Regions from separate parts of the Homo sapiens genome. Here region 1 is linked to region 2. The links come from fine-mapping of genetic effects on gene expression. A gene starts in region 2. The other region holds a variant in brackets. All regions are shown on one strand. Distances are from middle to middle. Region 1 overlaps ALOX5 (arachidonate 5-lipoxygenase). Region 2 holds the start of ALOX5 (arachidonate 5-lipoxygenase).

Evidence for each region.
Region 1: its variant is fine-mapped to the expression of ALOX5 in whole blood (TOPMed, PIP above 0.99).

What each region holds. Positions count from the first base shown.
Region 1 is chr10:45,416,703-45,424,702 of GRCh38, reverse strand. It overlaps ALOX5 (arachidonate 5-lipoxygenase), which reads right to left. Exons shown (of 14, transcript NM_000698.5): 5 at 556-662. Among named protein-coding and RNA genes, the nearest start is that of ALOX5, 46 kb to the right of the region's middle. RefSeq lists enhancers at 3,849-4,350, 4,379-5,070, 5,071-5,764. The variant G/A (reference allele first, on the strand shown) is at 4,210.
Region 2 is chr10:45,363,026-45,377,600 of GRCh38, reverse strand. It overlaps ALOX5 (arachidonate 5-lipoxygenase), which reads right to left and starts at 3,385. Exons shown (of 14, transcript NM_000698.5): 1 at 3,172-3,385. The coding sequence starts at 3,321. RefSeq lists enhancers at 2,398-3,006, 3,007-3,617.

The sequences.
Region 1 (8,000 bases), 50 kb before region 2:
TCCAGGATGGAAGAAGGAGGGCGTGGAGGAGAGTCCCTGGGGGCAGTTTGCCAAGTTTGGTTCCCCATGTCCTGATTTCAGCACCTCTTCTTGTCCAGCCATTCCTGCCTTCCTAACGTCCTTCCCATGCCATGACTGGCCACTATGAAGCTAGTGCTCTCATCAAACACATCCTAGTCCAAAGGAACCCAAAGTTGCTTTTGTGTAAATACCTAAAACACAAGCCAAGTTCTGCCTTTGCTCTGTTCAGAAGCACAAATGATTGATTTGTGCCAAGAAAAAGTTCTGATACTTTTGAGACTTTTGATAGTGAAATGAGGTTGAGGGTGCTCGAGCTTGAATATCTGAGGAGGAGAAACCTCTGGGCACAAGGGTGACCACAGTGATGGTAAAAGGTGTGGAGTGTAGGGGGTGCTGTCCAGGGTGGCATGGTGGCAGCGAGGCCCCCATGCTGCAGCAGGCAGGAAGGCCCTTGTCAATTTCCCGGCAAGTATCAGACAGGAGAGCAGCATCCCCTGTCCCCAGCACCACTTGGGCCCCCAGAGGCACACTCACCAGAAATAGTGTTGCTGATCTTGACAAAGATTTTCTCAAAGTCGGCGAAGTCATTCCAAGAAGACTGGAACATGTGCATGAAGCGGTTGATGAACAGGTTCTCCATCCTGCAGACCAGGAGAGAGGTCACCTTGCGCACACTAGCCATGCCTCCCTCTGCAGAGCCCCTTCACACCAAGCTCTCAGGGGTCCTCACAACCCCCGCCCCCTCCAGGCAGCTCTGCAGAGGTAGGTGACTGGCTTTTCAGAACCAGGTCAGAAACTGGCATCTATACGGGATGCTGTTCTACTGCACCTCACCTGTCGAAGAGACAGGCCAGTACCCTCCAGAATAGCCTGCAGTGCCTTGAATTCCATTCACACATGTGTTCATTCATTCACTCATCGGGCACTTGCAGTCCCCCACTCGGTGGGCCAGTCCCTGAGAAAGCTTCTACGAACAGAGATCCAGCTGCTCTACCGTGTTGCCTGGCTTTTGGGGCGATGAACAGTTCAATTGACTTGAAAACTCATGTATTTTCTGCTAAATGGCTCCGTGTTTGGTGCTGAGGAGAAGTTTCCAAATGCTCACTGCACAGGACAAGAAAATAGAAACCCAAGGCCAGAGCTTGCTAAATTCAGAATGCAGGCTGCAGGTACTAAGGAGTGAGATGTGAGTGTATGAGCAATCCCCAGGGCTTCCTGGAGGAGGCAGGGTGTGGGATGGGTCCAGGAAAGGTGGAAAAGAGGGGAGAGACTTCCCAGGCTTCCTCCATAACCCTGCAGAGTGCAGGACAGGAGCGTGGGAGTGCTGCCCAGTGTTCACCATGACACACTGTGCCTCAGTTTCTCTCTCTGGCACACAAAAGACTGAGATTAACAAGATAGCCTGTTGCCTCTCCACCGTCAGTGCTCAATCACTGCCCACTCTTCAGCCTTGACTCTGGTTGCCCCTCAGAGCTCAGGCCTTTGCCTTGGGCCTTTGCACATCTGTTTCCTTCAGGCTGGAATGCTCTGTGCCCCTTTCTTTTCTGCTGTGGACTAAATTGTGCTCCCCAAATTCATGTGTTGAAGCCCTGACCCCCAGTGTGATGGCATTAGGAGATGGGGCCTTTGGGAGGTGATTAGGGTTAGACGAGGTCACGAGGGTGGGGTACCCGTGATGGGATTAGCATCCTCGTAAGAAGAGGAAGGCACCGAGGGCTTATTCATGCCCTGTCCCCCTCTCTCTGCCACGTGACCATGCTGTGGGAACACAGAGACATCTGCAAGCTGGGAAGAGGGCCCTCACCAGCAAGTGGATTGGCTGGCACCCTAATCTTGGACTTCTAGCCTCCGGACCTGTGAGAGACAAATATCTGCCGTTTAAGCCATCTGGTCTGTGGTATTTTGATGTGGCTGTCCCAATAGACTATGCCATTCTCTTACTGCGCACATGGGGTGTATCTGGAGGGCTCACTGGAGTGATGCTGTCTCTGTTCATTTCCTCTGTAGCTCTTACTGCAGCTTAAGTGCAAACTCACGTGTATGAATCTATGCCTGCTGCCCTATGCATGCTGAGGGCACAGTCATGCCTGCACTTTACTCAGCATTGAGCCCAGGCCTTCTAGTGTCCAGAGGGGCTCATGCAGCATCGCCTCATGGACTAAGAGGTGACCTCACCTGGTGCAGGGGACTGTGCCCGGGGCACTCCTCCAGTGGCTCCCCTTCCTGCCCACCCCTGAGGAGGCAGCCCTAGGTGGCCAGGACCCAGTGCTCTGCCTGGACCCACTTCTCAGGTGGAGCATGGCTGGGTCTGAGCTGTAGACACACACCTTGTCATGGGGAAAGCTGGGGAGTCAGGGACCTCCCCACATCCTCCTGATCCAGCAGAATGAGAGGATGGAGGCTGGGGAGAGCCTGGCTGATGGGACACAGGGCTTGGTGACATCCCAGCTCTGTTGTCTCAGGGGAATCACCCTGTGAACATGCATGAAGGCAGCAAACTGGAGCAACCACAGGGGGGAACTCCTAGGATAAGCAAGAGACACTGGGGGTCTCTCCTGCCTGCCCTGCCAGGTCTAGGGGTGCATCCAGGCAGAACAGCAATCCCCTTCCATCCTTTCTTAGCTTAGCAAATGCTTCTCTCCTTTGTCCTGGCTACCCTGGGTCTCCTAGGAGGCCATGATGCTCAGGAGAGGGTCCTGGGGCCACAAGGCTAGAGGCCTTTGTGAGTACTGTCTTTTTCTCCTCATGTGTCAGGATGAACAAGGAGCCTGCAGGTGACCGAGAGGGTGTACTGCTGGAAGTTGCCATGGCACAGCCTGGGCAGTGTGGCTGGCTTTGTGATGGGCTGCATACAGTAGGTGCTCAGTGCTACAGCACCCTGGAGCTGTCGAATAATACCAGCATCATCTTCCAGTCCTTCTGGTACCTTCTTCACTTGGATCCAGCCCCTTGTGGGGAAGGAGGGGCTTTTACACAGGTGCTTGCTTCCAGGGAGGCTGCTGTGGTCTCACCATGGCTACGACCAGCAGCCAGGCACTGGAATACCCAGAGAAGCTTCTTTCAGCCTTGCTGCCTCCTTCCTCCCCCAGCACCCCTCGTCAGCTGAGTGTTCTGGGCTAGGAATGCTTGTCAAGCTGGAGGGGTAAACCTCACTGTAGCATCTGGTGTCAGTCTGGGTGGGGAAAAGAACTTATTTCTGGGAGATGAGAGGCCTACGCAGGCCCCGAGAGCCCTGTAGGGCCTGAAGATGGCCCAGTGCCAGAGGGTGCCCCAGAAAGAGGTCCTGTGCTGGGGCACCTGAGGTCCCGGGTGGTCCCTTGCCCCTGTTCTTTGGAGGAACCAGGAGTGAGTCACCAATTACCCAGCTGGGTCTGTTTGACCTCAAAACAGGAGGTTTACTCTGAAAACAGGGTGGGTCTGGTAGTTCTCAGAAGAAGCCACAGATGTAGGAAGAAGTGGAGTTAGGAGGAACATATTTACATGTCATCTAGAGGCAAAATATTTCTATATCCTTACAGATAACTGGAATATTCAGGGCTTCGAAGACCCGCTTTTGTAAAAAGAAGGACCCTGCAAGCCAGAGAGGGCACCAGGCTTTTTCAAGGCCACACAGGCAGGTAACAGCCACCTTGATCACCTGGCCTAGGGGCAGTGACCTAGCTTTCTCCTGCATCTTCAGCTTTCTCCTGTGCCAAACTGTGGCCCAGGCTGGGCACCAGCTGTTGGCCATGTGCCCGGTGAGCCCCCCACCCCTCGCCCCTACTTCTCCCAGGACGGGCCGCATTTCTGCACTGTCCCGCCTCACTGGGAAGGAAACTCTCTTTCTCAATTTGCTTTAATGAGGCCATTGAGGTTCACCTAACCTCTGTCTCCCTGCTCTTTCCTTCTGCTACCAGCTTTTCCATTTTTTACGCCACAGTTGTGCTGTGCAGGGCAGGAGCAAAGCCTGCTGAGGAGGGCTGGCCCCCTTCCAGGTACAGCAGGTGGCTAGGAGGAACTGCGTGCCAGAATTACTCAGAAGCAGCGGCGAGGAAACCAAGCTGTCGCCAGCCAGAGGTTTAACGGGGAAGGCCTCCTCGGTGACTTCAGCCAAGTTTCAGTTTCCTGCCAGTGGGCACTGAGTTTAACCCACTCTAGGCGGGGAGTGTAGCCATCCAGATTTTAGCAAGGGCCCCAGGGGATTCTGAC[G/A]CAAGCTATACTTTGAGAACCACTGCTGAAGAGTTTGCAATGTTTTCCAAATTAATTTGACTACAGAACAAATCATTTTTTTGAGGGAAACATGACTTCATGCTTTGTATTAACTCTTGGTCTTATTTTATGATGCATTTTTAACAACATGATGCTACCTTAGCAAATAAAATTGAAATTTTCTAGCCTCGTCTGATTTTTAGATGGGATACCACCCTACATTTTCCAAACAAATTTATTTTACAATGGGACACATCCCTGATTTCATAACAAAATTTAATGAAAGTCAATATGTTTTATAGGCATCAGTTAATAGAAGGGGATTATTTTTTAAATTTCCAAGGATTTCAGAGGCTTTCGGGTAGCATTTGGGAAGTTAAAAGTGGGAGAATCCTACTTGTGTCACAGGAAAAGTGGTTCCTATGAGTGCTTTGGTGACTTGGGGCCAAATGGTTTCTGAGTTGGGATGACGATAAGAGGGGATGTGGTCTTCTTCCCATATACAAACCCACGCTTTGCTTTCCAGTGCCAGGCCAGCAGGCCCCCTCCTCTTCCGGCCTCTCTTTCCTCCGCCATCACTTCTCCCGATCCCCAGCCTGGGTCCTCACCCTTCCTCCTGCTGCTACGTCCCTCCCTTCCTCCACAGGCACCCTGCCCGTCCACTGAGCTCAGGGCCCTTCTCTCCTGGCCTGGCCCCTCCGCAGCCTTCCTTGCCTGGGGGATATCGCTCCTTCCCTACACCCCTGGTGCCTTTTGAAACAGGGTCTCACTCTGCCGCCCAGGCGGGAGTTCAGTGGCGCAGATCACTGCAGCTTCCACCTCCCCGGCTCAAGCGATCCTCCCGCTCGGGAATCCCCGAACACTGGGATTACAGGCGTGAGCCTCCGCACCCACTCCCTACCGATCATCCCCCTTCAGGACGCTGCCATCCATGTAGCTGGGTCGTCTGGAGCACGGGGCATGTGGCTGGCCTGCGGGGCTGGGGGAGGGCCGGTGGGAGTGGCTGCCCTCAGAGCCCACCCCCTAGGCCTCTGCCTGCCCCCAGGTTCCCTCTCCCCCGTCCCTTGTCGGGAGTCACTCGTCAGCTTCTCTTCTCAGCCCGGCTGCGCAGCGCTCTCAACCCAACCCCTGGACTCATCTTCGCCCCAGCCTCCTTCGTGCCCAGCGTCCCTTGTAAATGACCCCCCCGGCCGGGTGCCCCGCTTTCTCTCTCGGCCTCTTCCGCGTGGTCTGCTCTCCGCCCGCCTGCGCTCGCCCGGCCTCCCTGCCTCTGCGCCTTCACCTGACCGCAAAGGCGGCCAGGGCAGCCTCCGCGCGGCCTGACAGTCACGGCTCCCAGTTTGTCCCTGGACGTGGGAAACTCGGGCTCATAGCGCCTCTACGTACACTGCGGCACAGACTGGCGTTTCCTACGGCGCCTTCACTGGAAAGCGCCCCTGTGGTCCTGGGGAGAGGGCGGCTCCATCCGCCACCCTTCCCGGAGCTGCCCCCGCCCATTCTCATGGGAGGAAATCGCAGGGCGTGTGAGCCCCCGACCCCTCGCCCCCACCTCTTCCAGGACCGGCCGCATTTCTGCACTGTCCCGCCCCACTGGGAAGGAAACTCTCTTTCTCAATTTCCTTTAATGAGGACATTGTCTTTTCAGCCCTGCCACCCCCTGCAATCGTCTTCCAGGCTGCAAACAGCGAGTGGGGAGGTGAACACATCAGCTTTTCCTCCCTCCACACCACCAGGAAATTTCGCAAACCACTTGGCTCTCGGCGGCCTGGCCTCGCCACACCTGTGCCCACAGTCTCTCTCCGCTGCAGCCCCCTGTGCCATTCTCCAGGCCCCACGTACCTCTGCCTGGGCCCAGTAAGACCTGGTCAGATGGCCCCCGGCTGCAAAGCCTTCCTGGGCCCCATCAGAGAGGACGCCCAGGTGAAGCGAGGGTCCCCTGCCCACCCTGCAAGCGCAGGGGCCCTTCCAAGAGTGCAGCCCTAGGCCGGTGTGTGATGGTGGAGACGCGGTCCCAGAGGGCCTGAACCAAGAATGGAGAAGACAAAGGCTGTCTTTAGGGAGAAACTTCCCTGAGGGGCTGATGTGTGCGATCCCATTTTAATCTCACAACCCTGGGGAGGAGCTGGGGCCGGGTCTCATTGTTCATTTGAGGACACCGAGGCTCAGGGAACTTAGACGACTTTCCTAGGGTCCCCCCAACCCCCACCGGCCCAGGGCCCTCTCCCAGGCACCCCTCATCCCCACACAGGCTCCTCTAAGCTGCTTCCTTGTGGTCCAGCCCCCTTGGCTCAGCTCCTCAAATACAGGGACACCTCTTCTCTCCCCCGCAGAACTCAAGGGTCTCCATCCACTGTGCCAGCACAGAGGCGGTGCTCAGAGTGGGGCTAAGCTTACTGTCCAGCCTGCTGGGCCAGGAGGGGCAGAAGGGCCCCTCTCAGGATTCCTTCGCTCTGCTCCTGCCAATAGGCCATCACTCAAGGGGCTAATGACAGGACGATGTGGAGAAACGTGGGCTGCAGCACTTCTGGGGCCAAGGGCAGGGTGGGCGGCACTGGGGAGTACAGGGGAGGGGACCTCACTGGGGCCAGAGGCTTCTAGAAGCTTCTGCAAGAAGGGGCCCCTCACCCATGTCTTGGCCAAGAAGTGGGGAGGGTGGGTGTGGCAAAGGAAACAGCTAGGTCAGAGACAAGAGATGCTCTGCAAAGCCCTGCTGGCTCCCCACGGTGGAGCATCCTATGCATGTAGGACCTGAGAGATGGCAGGGGCGGGTGCGTCCCTATGGATGTATCTCCATTTCTGGGCAGAGACATCTGGGCTCTCACCTGCAATTGAGCCAACCAAGAAATTATATTTACTTTTTAGAGCGAGCCTCCAACAAATTATACAAGCACTTGAGAATAAGCCCTCCCACTGTCTTGAGAGATGGAGCCCAGGGAGGCAGCTGGAAAGATGCTCCTGCCCTCACTCAGGAGAGATGGTGGAGCTGGGAGAGGAGGAGGCACTCCCTGGGACCCAGCAGATGGACTTGACTCAGCAAATAGATGCAACCATATGTGGGGGGTGGGGAGGCCCAGAAAGGCATTACAGGCCAGTGTTCTTAATCCTGGCTATACACTGGAATCCACCAGTAGCCCTAAAATATAACTGTGCTGGACTTCCCCTGGTTCCACAGTTTGTGCAGAGTGGGCAGCATGGAGTCTGTAACACTAAACACACAGGATTGAGAACCATATGTCTAGGCTGTTGTTAGCCATGATGGGGATACATGAAAAGGAGGTGCACAGTTACCTTCTATACCACAGGATAGGTGCTCATTAAACCCTGTTAAAATGGACTGTGACCCAGCTGGCACTCAGGGGCACTCAGGGGCCAGGTGGGTCACACTTTCATTTTAATAGGATTTAATGAGCACCTATTCTGTGACAGCTGCTAAGATACAGAGGCTCCTGAGATACAGAGATGACAATGACCTTCAGAAACACTGAACAGAGATAAGAAAGGCACAGTCTGGCCTTCACTCCACCATTAATTCCTCCATCCATCCATCCATCCATCTATCCATCCATCTCTCTGTCTATACTTCCATCCATCCACCATCCATTCACCATCCACCCATCAATCCATCCACCCATCTATCCATCCATCCATCTCACTATCTGTCATCCATCCATCCATCCACCATCCATGAATCCATCCATCCGTATATCAATTTCTCATCTATCTCTCCATCCATCCCCCATCCACCTCTTCTTCCATCCTTCCTCCTTCCCTTCATCCATCCATTCATCATC
Region 2 (14,575 bases):
GGAAGAGCTGAGGAAAACAAGGGACGGAGAGAGGGATTGGGGTAGTGGATAGGGAGACCAAGGGGCAGAGAAGGGGGAAAATGTGGGACAGAGAGCCGGAGATTGAGGGAGCAGAGAAGGGGCCTCTGAGAGGTGGCTGGAAGACAGAGTGTAGAGGAAAATTCAGAGCAAAAAAGAAGGGAGAGTTGTAGGGTAGAGAGCAGAAACGGGGGGCATTTAGGGAACTGGGAGCAGGGGAAGGAAGAGGAGGCAGAAGAGGGGGCAGAATGTAGGGAAAAGATGGCTCAGAGGGGGAGACTGGGAGATGAGAGACGGATTGAGGGTCATACCAAAGAAATATTTATGCTCCACTAATATATTCCCATTCACAAGAAGGAGGTATTCTAGAATTAATTTTTCATGAATGTAAGAATACTCACTGACTTAAGAAGCATGAATCATTATAACACTTTTCTACACTTGTTGAACATATTCAAGTATCATATATTAAACACCACGCTATTGCCCTTAGCTTTCTTAAAAGTACCAGCACAGAATGAAATGGGCCAACTAAGATTTCTCAGAAATCTTCAGATCTGTTACAGTTATCGTATCCGATCTGAATTACTTTAAATTTACAGAGTTAAAGAAATAAATCAACTTGTTAAATTTGCCTAGACTTGGGTTAGCCTCTGGAAACAGGGCCATTCTGTGTAGGATCCCGGCTTTCTCCAGCAGACAGTGAGGAGCCAAGGAAGACACAACCGTTTATAGGATAATCCCACCTGCGAAGGACTTGATTCCCAGTCCTGACTGAATCACTATGCGGAACTCTGATGAGAATAACAAGGGACCTGTGACTCACTTTATCAAGGAAAAAATCAGTCCTGTCCATTATTTGACTGAACTATGCCCTGGAGGAGGGGGGTGTTGACCTGCCAATAACTTGGAAATGATTAAATTGTGTGGAAATACCTTTATTGTTATTGTTATCGTTACTACTGTTAACAATACAGATTTTAACACTTTTCCCTGTAAAATGGGATAACCTTGTCTTCTCAGCAAGTACTTCCTCTAGGGTTTCTCTTTTACCTTTACCCAAAAAGGATGATTGTCTTTACAGATACCAAGCTGGGAGAATGAGGAAGTAGTTCTGGGCTGGGCAAGAGAAAGTGTTGAGTAACTTTGCATCAACAGGAACTTTCTCAAAAGCTGATTTTTTCAAGGAAACTTTCAGCCTTAGCTGGTTCCCCACCCTGCGGTAGCCCCCACCCCCAACCACCCCCCGCCCCACCCCTGACTTATAGCCCTCTCAACCCAATGGAAATGTGACATGCAAATCTCTCCTGAAATTTGCCCCTGGGATTCCGGCTGAGGTGTTTAATTATAATGTCATTTGAATGACTTCTCAGGGTAGGGGAAGACAGACCGAGAGAGGGAGATAGTGGACAAAACAGTGCCTTCACTCTTTGTCCGAAGAGCCCGCTATGGCCACGTTATCATGTCCCCTGCAGGAGGAAAGCACACACGGGGTGCCCGTGCTGTGCAGTGTGAGCACACCAATGGCCTGTGCTTCTAGAACCTTATGATGTGTGGAGGAGAATGGGGAGGAGGAAGCACTTACAAAGGGGAAGTAGCCTGTACCCTGTCCTTCTCCCCCAGGTGTGGGGAATCCATGAAATAATGGAAGTAAATGAAGGTGCGTCAGAAATGGCAGAGGGTGCCATCACCCTAAATGGACGACACATTAACTCCAGGGCACCGCAGTCCTCAGGGTCAGTTCCCCGACTGGGGCAACTAAGCAACTGAAGGTTGCTCTTGTACTCAACACCTAACTCTTCTTGAAGGGAGCTCAAGCCAGGATGCTAGTGAACTTGGCTGAGGGCCATGTCGTGCTACAGCGAGGGTATGGGCTCCTGGATAGGAATCGAGCCCATGGAGAGCTTGGAATCCAGAAAAAGAGTAGTTTTTACTTACTTTAGGCTCTGCACACCTAAAACACAAATTTTATCCAAGAGTAATCAGTTGAAACATGAACTTGCCGGTTGTATTTGTCCATTATGAGCAATTTCACAAGGTTTGATCAAATAATAAACTAAATGGTGAGAAGGCAGCTTGGTAAAGTCTAAATCTTTTTGGTCCAGTTAGGAGCTGGGGTGGGGTGGAAGGGAACTGATATTCCCTGCGCACCTGCAGTATGTCTGGGACTATTACCAGTCATTTACGGAGCGCTTCCTCTGTGCCAGGTACTGGATTAGGCACTTCATTAAAGGCTCAGTGAGAACTGCGACCTGCCCATGCTCATGGAAAAGAGTCGTGGGGCTGGAATTCAGGTCCAGATCAGCATTAGGAACTAGCTTCCAAATGCTGAGGGCTCCCTCGCGTCCTCACACCTAGCGTGGAAGTGTTCCCTGGTGTACATTCTGCTGGGAGGGAGTGCAGCCCCTCCATTTAGGAAAAGCCTCTCCTGGCCTGGGTTCTGTTCCTTCCCTTTAATTTCCTCTGGGGACTGTCCTGAGAATGTAAGCTGCCCAGGTGCCGTCTGAGCCACCAGATGGGCCTGGGCTCACCCATGACTCATGGACCAGACTGAAGCCAACCCTCCATTTTCAGCTGGGGAAACTGAGGCCCAGACAGACGGTAGAGTGAGCTGGTGGTCATGTCTGGACAGAACTCAGGCCTCTGGACCCGCTGACGTGCACCCTTCCCCACGGCTCACAGCTGGCTGCTCCGAGGTGCCCTCAGAGTTCTGTGAGCATGACTCATCTGCCTCTCCCTCCCTGTGCGACCTGCAGAAGGAGCCTAAGGAAGAGGTGGCACAAGAAACGCGGCCCAGTGAAGGGGGCTCCGGAGCCTCGGAGCCCAGATCTTGAAGTGGAGGGGAAACCTTGGGCCTTCTCCTCCCAGGGAAGACGCCTTGCAGGCGGCACGCGGGAAGTCTCCGTTTCCGACAGGGGTCGCGGCCGCCGCGAGGGGTCCTGGACGCTTGCCCACCAGGGTACCCACCGGCCACTGGGAGCCCAGGGCACGCCCCACCGCAGTTCTGCCCTCCCTGACAGGGTCCTGGACACCCCCAGTCCTGTCCGGGCCGCCCCGACGGGCCCTCGGCGCCCCCGCCCAGGCCTCTGCCGTCCAAACCGGGTCCCGGACGCACCTCAGCCCGCGCTCCACCCGTGCCCCGCCCGCGCTCACCGCGCCACGCTCGAAGTCGTTGTAGAAGGGCTTGTCCAGCAGGTGCTTCTCGCTGCAGCCCGCCGAGCCCACGAGGCTGAGGTAGATGTAGTCGTCAGTGCCGGCGAACCACTGGCTGCCAGTGGCCACGGTGACCGTGTAGGAGGGCATGGCGCGGGCCGCGGGAGCAGCGAGCGCCGGGAGCCTCGGCGCGGCGGTCCAGGTGTCCGCATCTAGCGCCGCAGCCTCCTCCCACCACTGGTCCCTGGCCCCGGTCCCGGCCCCGCCCCGGTCTGGCTCCAGGCTCCCGGCTGCCCCCGCCCCCGCCCCCGCCCCCGCCCCCGCCCCCGCAGTACTTCTCTCCCACTCTTCACGCGGCGCCGACTGGGCGGGACCTCGCCTCGGGCGGGGCAGGGGCCTCGCTCCTGGGTCTCTCCTCAGCGAGGTGTCTGTTCCTGCAGCCAGGGGACTGGGGCAACCTCGGCTGCCACCCCTCATCCATTCGTTCACTCGTTCTCTCCTGAATTGCTTCCACCCTTTGCCCTGCCTGCCTGCCTCGGCTTCGCCCAAGGCCAGGCTCCTGTAGGCCCTGGGGTGGAGCTGCGGGGACTCCCTACAAATCTAGGCACAGCCTCTGCTCTCCCCAAGTTCTCAGTGCCACTTGCGGTACTTGGAGCAGGGGTGCTCCGGGAGTCTGCAGAGGAAGAGCGACCCATGAGAGAATCAGAAGGGCTTCCTGGAGGAGGCCACCCCAGCGCTGATACTGAGGATGGATTCTGGAGCACAGAGGCTCCTTCAGCGCGGGCTTCTTCACTGGCTGGACCTGCGGCTCCTGGCGGGGGCAGGCGGGCGCCGAGACCGCGCCCAGGCCCAGAGATGGCCAGTGGTCGCGGGAGGCAGGCGGGACGGCACATCTGGACATGCGGGGCTGTCTAGGGGAGGCCAGGGGTCACGGGTCGGCTCTCTGAATCGCGGCGGGCAAATGCCTGGAAGGGTGTGGAGAAGGTTTCGCGCGCTCCTGGGCGGCTTCCCGCGGCTGGGGCCTGACCCCCAGGTTCCCGCCCACTCCTGGCGCCCGCCTCTCCCAGCCCCGCCGGCAGCGCAGGGTCTGACGGGCACACAGTCGCGTGTATTGATCTCGGCTAAGTTTAAACACTAGCTCACCGTGCGTGGGGCGGCGGGGATGTGAAGTCCCCAAAGGCGGCTGCCTACATTCTCACCAACGCTTCATGTCTGTGAAGCAGCAGAGTCCCTGTAGCATCTCCTCATACTGTCTTGGGTTTGTGCACCTGGCAAATGGCTTTGAACATCTTTTCACATGCTTGTTGGATATCTGTATATTTTTGGAGAGATGTATATTCAGATGCTTGACTCTTTGGAAAACTGGGCTATTTATCTTTTTTATCATTGAATTGCATTATTTATATATCCTGGATAGAAGTCTCTAATCGGATACATGACTTACAGACATTTTTATTGCTTCTGCGGGTTGTGTTTTCACTTTCTTGATGATGTTTGAAGCACAAAAGTATTTAACTTTAAGTCCAATTTCTTTTGTCGCTTGTGATTTTGGGGTCCTATCTGAGAAACCACTGCCTACAATAACATCTTAAAGATTTACTCCTAGGTTTTCCTCTAGGATTATTATAGTTTTAGCTTTTCATTTACATCCGTGACCCATTTTGAGTTAGTTTTTATGCATGGAGCGATAGAAGAATTCAAATTCATTGTGTTGCATGTGCATGTCCGGTTGTCCATGCATCATTTGTTGAATTCATTATTCTTTTCCCATTGCGTTGTCTTGACACCTTATTAAAAAGTAATTCATTATAAACATAACGGTTTATTTCTGGACATTGATTCTAGTCCACTGATCTGTAATGTACATGCTATACAGTGCCACACTGCTTGATTACCGCAGTGCTATAGTAAGTTTTGAAATTGGAAAATGTTAATCCACCAACGCTGTTCTTTATTTTTCAATATTGTTTTGGTTATTCTGGATCCTTTGAGATTCCATATAAATTATAGAATCAGCTTGTCAATTTCAGCCAAAAAGCAAGCTAGGATTTTGATAGGGGTTGAGTTGAAGCTGTAGATCAATTTGGGGAATATTGTCACTTTAACAATATTAAGTCTTCTGATCCATAGAATATGTTTCAGCTTATTTAAATCTTTTCTTTTCTTTTCGACTCTTTGGAGTCTCCCTCTGTTGCCCAGGCTAAAGTGCAGTGGTACAATCTCGGCACACTGCAACCTCTGCTTCCCAGGTTCAAGTGATCCATTTACTTAAATCTTTTCTGATTTATTTCAAAATATTTTGTAGTTTTCAGTGCACTTTTTATTTCTAAATAATTTATGTTTGATACTATTGTAAATGGAATTTTAATTCATTTTGAGATTGTTAATTGCTAGTATATAGAAAAACACTTGATTTTTGTACATTCATTTTATATTCTGCAAACTTGCTGAACTTGTTTATTAGTTCTAATGGTTTGTGTGTGTGTACATGTGCACATTTTCTATATGCAAGATCATGTCATGAGCGAGTAGAGATAGTTTTACTTCTTCTTTTATTTGGAAGCCTTTTATTTCTTTTTCAGGGATAATTGCCCTAGCCAGAACCTCAGTACAAGGTCAAATGGAAGTGGCAAAAGCAGGCATCTTTGTCTTGTTCCTGGTTCAAGAGGTGAACACCCAGCCTTTCTGTATTAAGTTTGATGCTAGCTGGGGGTTTCCACAGATGCCATTTATCAGGTTGAGGGAGTTCCCTTTTATTTCTTTTGTTTTAAAGTGTTTTTATCATGAAATTTTCTGTATCAGTCGAGATACGAAATTTTTTCCTGTATGCTATATTAATATTATGATTATTTTCGTTTTAAAATATTTGATTGACAAATCAAAGTTTCTATTTCAAGGGGTAAAATGTGATGATTTGATATATGTATATATTGAATGCTGATTGTCACAGTCAAATTAACATATCTATCACCACCTATAGTTACCATTTGTGTGTGTGTATGTTGGGGGGGTGCTGGGGATGCTTAAAATCTGCTCTTATCCAATTTCAAGTAATAACGCAGTTATAAACTATAGTCACCATGCTGTACATTTGATCCCCAGAACTTATTCATCTTTTTTTTTTTTTTTTTTTTGAGACAGGGTTTCGCTCTGTCACCCAGGCTGCAATGCAGTGGCACTATCTTGGCTGACTGCAGCCTTGACTTTCCAATTTCAAATGATCCTCCCCCCTCAGCCTCCTGACTAGCTGGGACTACAGGTGTATGCCACCACTCCCAGCTGATTCTTTTATTTTTATTTTTTGTAGAGATGAGGTCTCACTTTCTTGCCTAGGCTGGTCTCAAGCAATCCCTCTGCCTCAGCCTTCCAAAGTATTGGGATTACCAACATGAGCCATCGCACCTGGCCTTCATCTCATAACTGAAAGTTTATACTCTTTGCCCAATATTTTGCTTCTTCCCCACATCCCCTAGCTCCTGATAAATACTGTTCTACTTATTCGTCTTCAAGTTTGAAATTTTTAGATTCGCATATAAATGAGATCATACAATATTTGTATTTCTGTGTCTGGCTTATTTCACTTAACATAATGTCCTCTGGGTTCATTCATATCGTCACAAATGGCAGGGTTTCCTTCTTTGTTATGGCTGAAAAATAGTCCATTGTGTATGTATACATGCACACCCCTCCCCCCATTTTCTTTATCCGTTGATGGACATTTAGATTTTTTCCTTATCTTGGCTACTGTGAGTAAAGCTGCAATAAACAAGGAAGTACAGATATCTCTTTGACATAGTGATTTGATTCCTTTGGATGTACACTCATAAGTGGAATTGCTAGATTGTATGGTAGTTCTATTTTTATTTTTTGAGGAACCTCCATTCTATTTTCCATAAAGGCTGTTGCAATTTACATTTCTACCAACAGTGTACAAGGGTTCTTTTTTCTCCATGCCCTTGCCAATATTCATTGTCTCTTGTGTTTTTCATAATAGCTTTCCTAACAGGTGTGGAGTGATATCTCATTGTGGTTTTGATTTGCATTTCCCTGATGATTAGTGATGTTGAACGCTTTTTCCTGCACTCGTTGGCCATCTGTGTGTCTTCTTTGAAAAAATGTCTATTCAGGTCCTTTGCCCATTATAAAACAGGTTATTATTTTTTTGGTATTGAGATATGTGAGTTCCTTATATATTTTCTATATTTTGATATTAACTTCTCATCAGGTATATGGTTTGCAAATATTTCCCTCCATTCTGTAGGTTGCCTTTTCATGTTGTTGACTTTCTTTTGCCATGCAGAAGCTTTTTAGTTTGATGTAGTCCTACTTGTTTATTTTTTCAAAAGTCTGTGCTTTTGGTGTAATATCCCAAAAAATTATTGCCAAGGCCAACGTCAAGGAGCTTTTCCCCTATGTTTCTCTCTAGGAGTTTTTGGTTTCAGATCTTACATTTAAGTCTTTAATTCATTTCAAGTTAATTTTTGTATATTAACTTGGGTCCAGTTTTGTATATTAAAAGGGTCTAATTTTATTCTTTTGTATGTGGATATGCAGTTTTCCCAACACCACTTATTGAAGAGATGAGATTATATTAATTTTATTTATAGCTATTGCAAATGGGAAATGGGATTACTTCCTTGATTTCATTTTCAGATTGTTTGCTATTGACATATAGAAATGCTACTGATTTTTGTATGTTAATTTTGTATCCTGAAACTTTACTGAATTTATCAGTTCTAATCATTTTTTTATGGAGTCTAGGTTTTTCCAAACAGAAGATCATACCATCTGCGAACAAAGGTAATTTGACTTCTCTCTTCCCAGTTTGGATGCCCCTTATTTCTGTCTCTAGTCTGTTCTAGCTAGGACTTTCAGTACTATGTTCCACTAACACTGGTGAAAATGAGCATCCTTGTCTTGTTCCAGATCTTAGAGGAATGACTTTCAGTTTCTCCCCATTTAGTATGATTCTAGCTGTGAGTCTGTCATATATGTCTGTTTATTGTGTTGAGGTATGTTCCTTCTGTCTCCAGTGTTTTTGAGGGTTTTTGTCATGAAGAGATGTTTAATTCTCTCAAATACTTTTTCAGCATCAATTAACATGACCATATGGTTTTTCTTCTTCATTCTGTTGATATGATATGTTACACTGACTGATGTGTATATGTTGAACCATATTTGCATCCCTGGGATAAATCCCATTTGGTCATAATGAATGATTTTTAATGTGATGTTGAATTCAGTTTGCTAGCATTTTTTGAGGATTCATCAATATTCATGTGAGATATTGGCCTATAGTTTTCTTTTTTTGATGTGTCCTTGGTTTTGATATAGGAGCAGTAATGGCCTCATAGAATAAGTTTGGAAATATTCCCTCCTCTTCTACTTTTTGGAATAGTTTGAGTAGGATTGGTATTAGTTCTTTAAATGTTTGATAGAATTCAGCAGTGAAGCCATTGGGTCTCAGGCTTTTCTTTGCTGGGAAAATTTTAATTATGGCTTTGATCTTGTTACTTGTTTTTGGTCTGTTCAGATTTTGAATTTCTTCATGGTTGAATCTTGTTAGGTTGCGTGTGTCTACGAATTTATCTATTTCTTCAATATTTTCCAATGTTTGGCATACAGTTGCTCATAGTAGCCATTAATGATCCTTTGAATTTCCGCAGTATCAGTTATAATGTCTGCTTTTTCATCTCTGATTTTATTTATTTGGGCCTTCTCTTTTTCTTAGTCTGGCTAAACATTTGTCAATTTTGTTTATCTCTTTAAAAAGCCAACCTTTCATTTTTGTTGATCTTTTGTATTGTTTTCTTCATTTCAATTTTATGTGTTTCTTTTTTTTTGGGTTGGGAAGTTTAGAGAATGGATTGATAGAGAAGTTTAATGGTATACTTCGCTGATGCTTAAAAATTGTACAGTCTAACAAGTGATCTCACTCTTTCTAAACTGCATTCTACTATCCTGTGTGAAAAAGGGAAATGGAAACTTCTTCACAGAATTAAAATTTAGATAAGAAAATCTAAACTTAAGGTTGTTATTTTTGCTATTTACTATTGTGATGTGGTATTACCCTGGCACCATGGAATGTGCGGAAGTGAAAGCCATCTGCTCCCCAGCCACTCCTAATGTTGGAAGGGGATTTATTTTAACAATTTGGTGTGTATGCCTGAATACTTTCCATGTGTATCCAGACACATAGTGCACATGCAGAGTTATATTAGGTATACCCATCTACAATTTGCTAGTAACATTTTCTTTTTTTCATTTTTATTATACTTCAAGTTCTAGGGTACCTGTGCACAAAGTGCAGGTTTCTTACATAGGTATAGATGTGCCCTGTTGGTTTGCTGCATCCATCAACTCATCATTTACATTAGGTATTTCTCCTAATGCTATCTCTCCCCCAGTCCACCACCCCCCAACAGGCCCTGGTGTGTGATGTTCCCTGCCCTGTGTCCAAGTGTTCTCATTGTTCAGTTCCCATCTATGAGTGAGAACATGCGGTGTTTGGTTTTCTGTCCTTGTCATAGTTTGCTGAGAATGATGGTTTCCAGCTTCATCCATGTCCCTGAAAAGGACATGAACTCATCCTTTTTTATGGCTGCATAGTATTCCATGGTGTATATGTGCCACATTTTCTTAATCCAGTCTATCATTGATGGACATCTGGGTTTGTTAGAAGTCTTTGCTATTGTGAATAGTGCCACAATAAACATTCGTGTGCATGTGTCTTTATAGTTGCACCATTTGTAATCTTTTCGGTATATACCCAGTAATGGGATTGCTGGGTCAAATGGTATTTCTAGTTCTAGATCCTTGAGGAATTGCCACACTGTCTTCAACAATGATTGAACTAATTTACACCCCCACCAACAGTGTAAAAGCATTCCTATTTCTCCATGTCCTCTCCAGCATCTGTTGTTTCCTGACTTTAATGATCGTCATTCTAACTGGTGTGAGATGGTATCTCATTGTGGTTTTGATTTGCATTTCTCTGATGGCCAGTGATGATGAGCATTTTTTCATGTGTCTGTTGGCTGCATAAATGTCTTCTTTTGAGAAGTGTCTTTTCATGTATTTTGCCCACTTTTTGATGGGGTTGTTTTTTTCTTGAACATTTGTTTAAGTTCTTTGTAGATTCTGAATATTAGCCCTTTGTCAGATGAGTAGATTGCAAAAATTTTCTCCCATTCTGTAGGTTGCCTATTCACTCTGATGGTAGTTTCTTTTGCTGTGCAGAAGCTCTTTAGTTTAATTAGATCCCATTTGTCAATTTTGGCTTTTGTTGCCATTGCTTTTGGTGTTTTAGACATGAAGTCCTTGCCCATGCCTATGTCCTGAATGGTAATGCCTAGGTTTTCTTCTAGGGTTTTTATGGTTTTAGGTCTGACATTTAAGTCTTTAATCCATCTTGAATTAATTTTTGTATAAGGTGTAAGGAAGGGATCCAGTTTCATCTTTCTACATATGGCTAGCCAGTTTTCCCAGCACCATTTATTAAATAGGGAATCCTTTCCCCATTTCTTGTTTTTCTCAGGTTTGTCAAAGATCAGACAGTTGTCGATATGCAGCATTATTTCTGAGGGCTCTGTTCTGTTCCATTGATCTATATCTCTGTTTTGGTAACAGTACCAAGCTGTTTTGGTTACTGTAGCCTTGTAGTATAGCTTGAAGTCAGGTAGTGTGATGCCTCCAGCCTTGTTCTTTTGGCTCAGGATTGACTTGGTGATGCGGGCTCTTTTTTGGTTCCATATGAACTTTAAAGTAGTTTTTTCCAATTATGTGAAGAAAGTAATTGGTAGCTTGATGGGGATGGCATTGAATCTGTAAATTACCTTGGGCAGTATGGCCATTTTCACAATATTGATTCTTCCTACCCATGAGCATGGAATGTTCTTCCATTTGTTTGTATCCTCTTTTATTTCGTTGAGCAGTGGTTTGTAGTTCTCCTTGAAGAGGTGCTTCACATCCCTTGTAAGGTGGATTCCTAGGTATTTTATTCTCTTTGAAGCAATTGTGAATGGGAGTTCACTCATGATTTGGCTCTCTGTTTGTCTGTTGTTGGTGTATAAGAATGCTTGTGATTTTTGTACATTGATTTTGTATCCTGAGACTTTGCTGAAGTTGCTTATCAGCTTAAGGAGGTTTTGGGCTGAGACAATGGGGTTTTCTAGATATAAAATCATGTCATCTGCAAACAGGGACAATTTGACTTCCTCTTTTCCTAATTGAATACCCTTTATTTCCTTCTCCTGCCTGATTGCCCTGGACAGATCTTCCAGCACTATGTTGAATAGGAGTGGTGAGAGAGGGCATCCCTGTCTTGTGCCAATTTTCAAAGGGAATGCTTCCAGTTTTTGCCCATTCAGTATGATATTGGCTGTGGGTTTGACATAGATAGCTCTTATTATTTTGAGATACGTCCCAGCAATACCTAATTTATTGAGAGTTTTTAACATGAAGTGTTGTTGAATTTTGTCAAAGGCCTTTTCTGCATCTATTGAGATAATCATGTGGTTTTTGTCTTTGGTTCTGTTTATATGCTGGATTACATTTATTGATTTGCATATGTTGAACAAGCCTTGCATCCTAGGGATGAAGCCTACTTGATCATGGTGGATAAGCTTTTTGATGTGCTGCTGGATTTGGTTTGCCAGTATTTTATTGAGGATTTTGGCATCAATGTTCCTCAAGGATATTGGTCTAAAATCCTCTTTTTTGGTTTTGTCTCTGCCCGGCTTTGGTATCAGGATGATGCTGGCCTCATAAAATGAGTTAGGGAGGATTCCCTCTTTTTCTATTGATTGGAATAGTTTCAGAAGGAATGGTACCAGTTCCTCCTTGTACCTCTGGTAAAATTCGGCTGTGAATCCATCTGGTCCTGGACTCTTTTTGGTTGGTAAGCTATTGATTATTGCCACAATTTCAGCTCCTGTTATTGGTCTATTCAGAGATTCAACTTCTTCCTGGTTTAGTCTTGGGAGAGTGTATGTGTCGAGGAATTTATCCATTTCTTCTAGATTTTCTAGTTTATTTGCATAGAGGTGTTTGTAGTATTCTCTGATGATAGTTTTTATTTCTGTGGGATCGGTGGTGATATCCCCTTTATCATTTTTTATTGCATCTATTTGATTCTTCTCTCTTTTTTTCTTTATTATTCTTGCTAGCGGTCTATCAATTTTGTTGATCCTTTCAAAAAACCAGCTCCTGGATTCATTAATTTTTGAAGGGTTTTTTTTGTCTCTGTTTCCTTCAGTTCTGCTCTGATTTTAGTTATTTCTTGCCTTCTGCTAGCTTTTGAATGTGTTTGCTCTTGCTTTTCTAGTTCTTTTAATTGTGATGTTAGGGTGTCAATTTTGGATCTTTCCTGCTTTCTCTTGTGGGCATTTAGTGCTACAAATTTCCCTCTACACACTGCTTTGAATGCATCCCAGAATTTCTGGTATGTTGTGTCTTTGTTCTCATTGGTTTCAAAGAACATCTTTATTTCTGCCTTCATTTCGTTGTGTACCCAGTAGTCATTCAGGAGCAGGTTGTTCAGTTTCCATGTAGTTGAGCAGTTTTGAGTGAGTTTCTTCATCCTGAGTTGTAGTTTGATTGCACTGTGGTTAGAGAGACAGTTTGTTATAATTTCTGTTCTTTTACATTTGCTGAGGAGAGCTTTACTTCCAAGTATGTGGTCAATTTTGAAATAGGTATGGTGTGGTGCTGAAAAAAATGTATATTCTGTTGATTTGGGGTGGAGAGTTCTGTAGATGTCTATTAGGTCTGCTTGGTGCAGAGCTGAGTTCAATTCCTGGGTATCCTTGTTGACTTTCTGTCTTGTTGATCTGTCTAATGTTGACAGTGGGGTGTTAAAGTTTCCCATTATTAATGTGTGGTAGTCTAAGTCTCTTTGTAGGTCACTCAGGACTTGCTTTATGAATCTGGGTGCTCCTGTATTGGGTGCATATATATTTAGGATTGTTAGCTCTTCTTGTTGAATTGATCCCTTTACCATTAAGTAATGGCCTTCTTTGTCTCTTTTGATCTGTGTTGGTTTAAAGTCTGTTTTATCAGAGACTAGGATTGCAACCCCTGCCTTTTTTTTGTTTTCCATTTGCTTGGTAGGTCTTCCTCCATCCCTTTATTTTGAGCCTATGTGTGTCTCTGCCCGTGAGATGGGTTTCCTGAATACAGCACACTGATGGGTCTTGAATCTTTATGCAATTTGCCAGTCTGTGTCTTTTAATTGCAGCATTTAGTCCATTTACATGTAAAGTTAATATTGTTATGTGTGAATTTGATCCTGTCATTATGATGTTAGCAGGTTGTTTTGCTCGTTAGTTGATGCAGTTTCTTCCTAGCCTCGATGGTCTTTACATTTTGGCATGATTTTGCAGCGGCTGGTACCGGTTGTTCCTTTCCATGTTTAGCACTTCCTTCAGGAGCTCTTTTAGGGCAGGCCTGGTGGTGACAAAATTTCTCAGCATTTGCTTGTCTGTAAAGGATTTTATTTCTCCTTCACTTATGAAGCTTAGTTTGGCTGTATATGAAATTCTGGTTTGAAAATTCTTTTCCTTAAGAATGTTGAATATTGGCCACCACTCTCTTCTGGCTTGTAGAGTTTCTGCCGAGAGATCCGCTGTTAGTCTGATGGGCTTCCCTTTGAGGGTAACCCGACCTTTCTCTCTGGCTGCCCTTAACATTGTTCCCTTCATTTCAACTTTGGTGAATCTGACAATTATGTGTCTTGGTGTTGCTCTTCTCGAGGAGTATCTTTGTGGCGTTCTCTGTATTTCCTGAATCTGAATGTTGGCCTGCCTTGCTAGATTGGGGAAGTTCTCCTGGATAATATCCTGCAGAGTGTTTTCCAACTTGGTTCCATTCTCCCCGTCACTTTCAGGTACGCCAATCAGATGTAGATTTGGTCTTTTCACATAGTCCCATATTTCTTGGAGGCTTTGTTCATTTCTTTTTATTCTTTTTTCTCTAAACTTTCCTTCTCACTTCATTTCATTCATTTCATCTTCCATCGCTGATACCCTTTCTTCCAGTTGATCGCATCGGCTCCTGAGTCTTCACGTAGTTCTCGAGCCTTGGTTTTCAGCTCCATCAGCTCCTTTAAGCACTTCTCTGTATTGGTTATTCTAGTTATACATTCTTCTAAATTTTTTGAACGTTTTCAACTTCTTTGCCTTTGGTTTGAATGTCCTCCCGTAGTTCGGAGTAATTTGATCATCTGAAGCCTTCTTCTCTCAGCTCGTCAAAGTCATTCTCCGTCCAGCTTTGTTCCATTCCTGGTGAGGAACTGCATTCCTTTGGAGGAGGAGAGGCGCTTTGCCTTTTAGAGTTTCTAGTTTTTCTGCTCTGTTTTTTCCCCATCTTTGTGGTTTTATCTACTTTTGGTCTTTGATGATGGTGA